2 separate regions of the Homo sapiens genome follow, and region 2 is linked to region 1. Evidence: fine-mapped expression QTL. Tissue or cell type: spleen. Region 1 holds a variant in brackets; the other region holds the start of a gene. All regions are shown on one strand. Distances are from middle to middle.

Region 1 (2,844 bases):
CGCGACCCAGGCCTAGACCGCCCCCTGGGGTTTCGGGGCCGCTCAGGATCTGATCGATGCCGAAGCTGATTGGCTCGTGGTGTGGGAGGTTGTGTGGACCCAGCATCCCCGGCTCCATCGGTCTGGGCCGAGGAGAACCGCCGGAGGTTCGGTGGTTGGGGAGGATGCCTCAGGCAGCGCCAGAAGCCCAGCGGCGGCGCGCTCCGGAGAGTGGCCTCAGGGGCCCGCGGGGCTGGCCAAGGCAGGGCGCCGGGGTCCCCGAAACAGCAGCATCCCTGTGCACCCGGAGCAGCCGCGCCCGTGCCAGCCGCTGCCGGGCGTCAGCGCAGGGACTTGCATCCCGGGGGAGCACGGCCAGCTGGGGCCCCTGGAGCTTCCTTGCTGGCTCTTAAGCGCAAATAGACGCTGGGCTGCCGGCGCCGCTGCCCAAGTCCCGGGTGGAGAGGGTTGGCCAGCTCCGGCTGGGGCAGTGACTGACGGATCGGCCCGGGTGGGTAGTGGGGGCTGGGGGTAGGGCAGGGGCGGGGCCCAGCAGTTAAAGGGGAAGGGACGCCTGTTTGCGCCAAGCGCAGGGGGAAGGCTGGCTGGCGGAGATGTGCGGGGAGGGGGACAGGGGGCCAGGGTGTTAGGAGCCAGGCTCAGCGCGGGAGGGGCCCGAGCATGGGCCGCTGAGTCAGCGGAGATGCTCACCGCGCCTCCATCCTTGCTGGCCTCCGCCTTTGGGCGGCCTCCGCCTTTGGGCTGCCTCCGCCTCACCGGCTTCCTCCGCAGGTGCCTCCTCCCCCAGCCCCCACTCTTCGCCTCTCGATGGATCCTTCTGGCCAACTCCCGGATTCGTTGTGGTCCCCGCCTAAATGCTCTCGAAGACCAAATCTCGTTGTGGTTTCCCGGCTGCGTAAGAAGCGGCTGGGGAACGGCGCCCGGTGAGCTGCAGGCCCAGGAAGAGAACAGGTGTGGGAAGGGGACGGCAGGGGCTAAGGGCGGGGAACGGCCGCTTTGGGCTGGCGATCGTGGTGCGCCTTCTGGCCTCTCCTGTAGGTCCCCCCAGCCCTGTTCATGCGCACCGGTAATTGGTGTCCTGTGTTTCCTA[G/A]AATTTCGATTTTCCAAAATCCGTGTAAAACGGACCATGGCTCAACCCGGGCCAAATCAGGCCGGCGGGTTCTTGGGGCTGGCACTTACCCCCGGACCCCAAGTGCAGGGAGTCCTCAATGCAGGACTCTGCCCCTCCATTCTGTGCCTAGGAAGTCTGTTCTCACACTCTTCCTCCTCAACGGCGGGAGGGCGAAATCTCGCCACGGGGGACACGTGGGACCTCACTGAGGCCTTGGTTGGATCCTGGCCGCCTTGTTTCCCATAAACATTTTACCCCACCCAAACTCAAAAAATGGCCTGGAGCTGTCAGAGAAGGGAGGTGGGGAAAGACCTAAGCCGCTTGGTGACCTTGTGACCTCTGGCCATGAATCCAGGAGCCGGGAGTGCGTGAACTCTGCGTCCTTCCCGGGGATGGGACCCCCGCGGGCGGGCCCCTGAGCCTTAGACCCGCCCCCGCCGCCGCCCTGCCCGGTGCAGGCCGCGGTAATCGGGTTAGCTGGGCCGGAATTACATTACCTTCCCCGGCCCGCCCCGGCCCCCGGGGGGGCCCTGGCGCCTCTGAGCCGGTGAGACTGGGCTCAGAGAGGGGGGCGCTTCTACCATCCTGCGGTGGCGGTGGCGGGTGGGCACCAACGAGCAGCTCAGCCTACCTCTGACACGTGGTGGCCAAAGGACCTTACCCTGCTGTGCCAGCCCTCTACCCTCGTCCCGAGCCCACCCCGCTGTTCAGCTCCATCCTGCTGGTTCCCGTGTGAACCGAAATGCTTTGTAAGTCTACTAGCTGGATCTCCCTGGGAGCACTGATCTTCAAACTGATTCTCCAGGATCCCCTGGGAAAGACTCTGCCCCCTCCTTTCTCCCCAGCAGATGGGCTGGCAGCCTGGCGCCTGGGGCAGGGTGAAGGGGTCTTTTCTCCCCTGGGAACCAGGAATGATATTTGGGCATCTGGGCAGAAAGATAAAGAAGAGAAAGAAGGGTGAGCTCTGTCCACCAGCCCTTCAGTGTTCTCTGAAGCCTTATATCTAGAGGAGGTGAACCATAAATGGGACAGAGGGCAGTGGGAGGAATAGTGGGCATTAATATGTGTCAACCTGCCAGGCGCGGTGGCTCACGCCTGTAATACCAGCACTTTGGGAGGCCGAGGCGGGTGGATCACGAGGTCAGGAGATTGAGACCATCCTGGCTAACACGGTGAAACCCATCTCTACTAAAAATACAAAAATTAGCTGGGCGTGGTGGCGGGTGCCTGTAGTCCCAGCTACTTGGGAGGCTGAGGCAGGAGAATGGCATGAACCCGGGAGGTGGAGCTTGCAGTGAGCCGAGATCGCGCCACTGCACTCCAGCCTGGGCAACACAGCAAGACTCTGTCTGAAAAAAAAAAAAAAGTGTCAACCTCCCCCACCTTGACCACTCTACTATCCAATTTGTCCAGCCCCTCCTCAGCCCTGCTAACAGCCCGTTCTGAAAGAGGGTGGGGGCTCCTACCAATTTAGCAGATGTATTTTCATCTTGATGGAGAAGACAGACATTATCACCTCCCGTCTCTTTACAGAAACCCATGCACTTTTCTCAGCAGTAGAGAGGGCTACAAGGAAGCATGAACCTGTTTAGTCCAAATCTTCAGGCCGGGAGCAGTGGCTCATGCCTGTAATCCCACCACTTTGGAATGCCAAGAGGGGACGGATCACCTGATGTCAGGAGTTCAAGACCAGCCTGGCCAACATGGTGAAACCCCGTCTCTATTAAAAATAC
Region 2 (2,672 bases), 59 kb after region 1:
AAGGAAGTTGGAGAAAGAAAAACAGAATTGTTCAGATGGGGCACCCTAATTTGGCTGAGTTAATACTGGGACATGGAAAATCCTAACCCATTTCAGAACCAACCTTCTTTCTTTAGGCGGGTATAATAAGAAACCCAGTTTCCCCACCTCCAGATCCTCACCCAGCCAGGCACGGTACTGCTCAAGGGGGACTCCTTCCATAGGTTCCTCTTCATTATCCACAACCATAAGGGGAGAGGGTGAGCGAGGCCCCTCTGGGATCACAGTGAAGGTAGGAACACTGCAGAGAAGCAACACTACTCTTTAAAATGAGCAAGCGTCTCCTCCTCCTACTCCGTAGCTACACCCAACTTTCCCCACCCTCTTAGACTCTTGCTGCCTAAATCTGGACCCTGAAGTCACAGTGTCCATTCGGTCTTCTAGAAAGCCCAGTCGGCTTCTAACTACTATCTCTGCTCCTAAAGTTCCCCTTATAAAACTATGACCCTCTTGGCCTCACCTCTTGGTCCCCAGGACTTGTCCCCCAAGCTTGATTTTGAGTTTGAGCTGAGGCTTGGCAGGGGACGGCTGCGTGGGCCCGGCGTCTTCTTCCTGATGGTGTTTCTTCTTGTGTTTCTTCTTGTGCTTCTTGTGTTTTTTCTTGTGCACTCCATGGCCATGGGCACCCGCCAGGCTCAACTCCAGGGCTTCTCCTGTGGAAGGAAAGCCTGTCGACAGTGTTTGGCCGGAGGGTGGCAGGGGAAGCCCTGAATAACCTAAGCCCCTACTGGATCCCACCCTTCCCGCAGTACTCGCTGTTACCATAACAACAGCACCGCCTTTCTCCTTGCCACCTGTGGCCGAAGTACCCTGGACTCTCCGAGGAGCAAGAACGGGACTTCTTTTCTAACACGACCTAAATTGCTTGATCTATTCGCGCTTACCCGGCTCAGGGGCCTCCATAGCCCCAGAGGTGCTCCCACGCCGCCACAGCTTACTCATGAGGTCCTGCGAGGAAAGGGGACTAGAAATGGTTGGGACACACGCAGACACGCCTTTTCCGCCCCGCGGAAAAACTGGAGCCAGCAAAACAACCAGTTACTTCCGGTTCATGGCAACCATCCTTGTGCGGGGCACGCTTCGCGTCCAAAATCGTCCCTGAGAAACGAGGATCCTTCCAACGAACGTTCCGGTCCCTCTGAGGTCGGGACAGCCCAAATGGGCAGGGCTTTCCCCTGGCTCCGCCTCCCCACGCTAGCTTTCAGAACTCAGCGCGGATGAGTCAATTATTGAACACAAGTTTGGTGAATGTATACACTAGACCAAGTGCGGGAAGCTAGTCTAAGAGGATGCAAAGATGAATATGAACACCGCCCCTGTCCTTGAGGAACTCACAGTTGGGTGGAGGAATACATAAACTATATTGATGACAAAATGGCCGAAATGGTTAAACAGCACGAGTGCCCTAAGAGCAGATGCAGTTTAGGTATTTAAACTTCAATTTTCATAAGTAGGGAAATGAATAAATGAATTACGGTGCAGCTGTACAATGCGGAACACCATATTGCTAAGAAAAGTTGAGTTGTAAGTAATTAATGAGATTGACACAGAATTTAAACAATCTAAGTGTCCTGATGAATTGGTGTATCCATACAGTGGGATGTTAAGCAGCTTGGAAAAGAAATGAGGCGCCCCAGAAGGCTATCTAGGAAATTGGTAAGAGTCATTTGCTGATGAGCATCTAGAGAACAAGGGTGGATGGCGACCTATTTTTTTATGATTATACCCTCTTGTGCCTTTTGAATTTTGTATAAAACGTGTATATTTTACCTCATTTTAAAAAAGACATAAAAACAGGTAGGTTTGTATGTGCTGATACACGAAATAAGAAAAGTAAATTTCCCATCCTGGCTAATACGATGAAACCCCGTCTCTACTAAAAATACAAAAAAAAAAAAAAAAATTAGCCGGCGTGATGGCACGCGCCTGTAGTCCCAGCTACTCGGGAGGCTGAGGCAGGAGAATCGCTTGAACCCGGGAGGTGGAGGTCGCAGTGAGCCGAGATCGCGCCACTGCACTCCAGCCTGGTCGACAGAGCGGGACTCCGTCTCAAAAAAAAGAAAAAAAAAAAAAAGTAAATTTCAAGATTATGTGATCTGATTTTTAAAAGCATAATATACTAGCAAATACATAGAAAAAATTGAGGAATGTATACCTGTTAATGTTGGTTAACTGTAGAAGTTGGGGTTGAGGAACTTTCACTATTTAGGTATGTAATGTATTTTCTTACAGCCAATATATATCACGTTTATAATTAGAAAATAACACCTATATACATATATCTAAATATATATGAGTGTCTGAGCAAGGTAACAGCAGTGAAAAGTCTCTTACATTTCAGTGATAAAATTATCAAGAATCAATGAGCAATTATATTGGGGAATCCAGGATTAAGTCATGTAGTATGTGATTATGAAAAGGGATTTTGGAGTCAGACAAGCCTATTATCAAATCCCAGTTTCACCATTTATTAGCTATGCAACCTTGGGCCTAAAATTATTTAAGCTCTCTGAACCTGAGAATCCAGCTCTATAAGATGGAATACAGTAGGATCCACCGCTATGAGGGCTCTTTCAAGGAATAAAGGAAATCAAGAACTCATGATACTTAGGGTGGCAGCAGGCACAGGCACA

Direction of the effects. Alleles are on the strand shown, and positions count from the first base shown. SD is a standard deviation of normalised expression in the study named.
For the expression in spleen of the gene that starts at base 1,011 in region 2, allele G in region 1 goes with a higher level than allele A (large effect, 0.78 SD a copy in GTEx).

Evidence for each region. PIP is the estimated chance that this variant, and not a neighbour inherited with it, causes the effect.
Region 2: it holds the start of INO80B, and the variant in region 1 is fine-mapped to the expression of INO80B in spleen (GTEx, PIP 0.96).

The regions. Positions count from the first base shown.
Region 1 is chr2:74,512,081-74,514,924 of GRCh38, reverse strand. TLX2 (T cell leukemia homeobox 2) reads right to left here and starts at 475. Exons shown (of 3, transcript NM_016170.5): 1 at 1-475. The coding sequence starts at 118. RefSeq lists silencers at 418-517, 1,555-1,614 and an enhancer at 1,489-2,157. The variant G/A (reference allele first, on the strand shown) is at 1,091.
Region 2 is chr2:74,453,426-74,456,097 of GRCh38, reverse strand. It overlaps INO80B (INO80 complex subunit B), which reads right to left and starts at 1,011. Exons shown (of 5, transcript NM_031288.4): 1 at 924-1,011; 2 at 500-692; 3 at 162-280. The coding sequence starts at 981. It overlaps INO80B-WBP1 (INO80B-WBP1 readthrough (NMD candidate)), which reads right to left and starts at 1,075. Exons shown (of 8, transcript NR_037849.1): 1 at 924-1,075; 2 at 500-692; 3 at 162-280. RefSeq lists an enhancer at 908-1,497.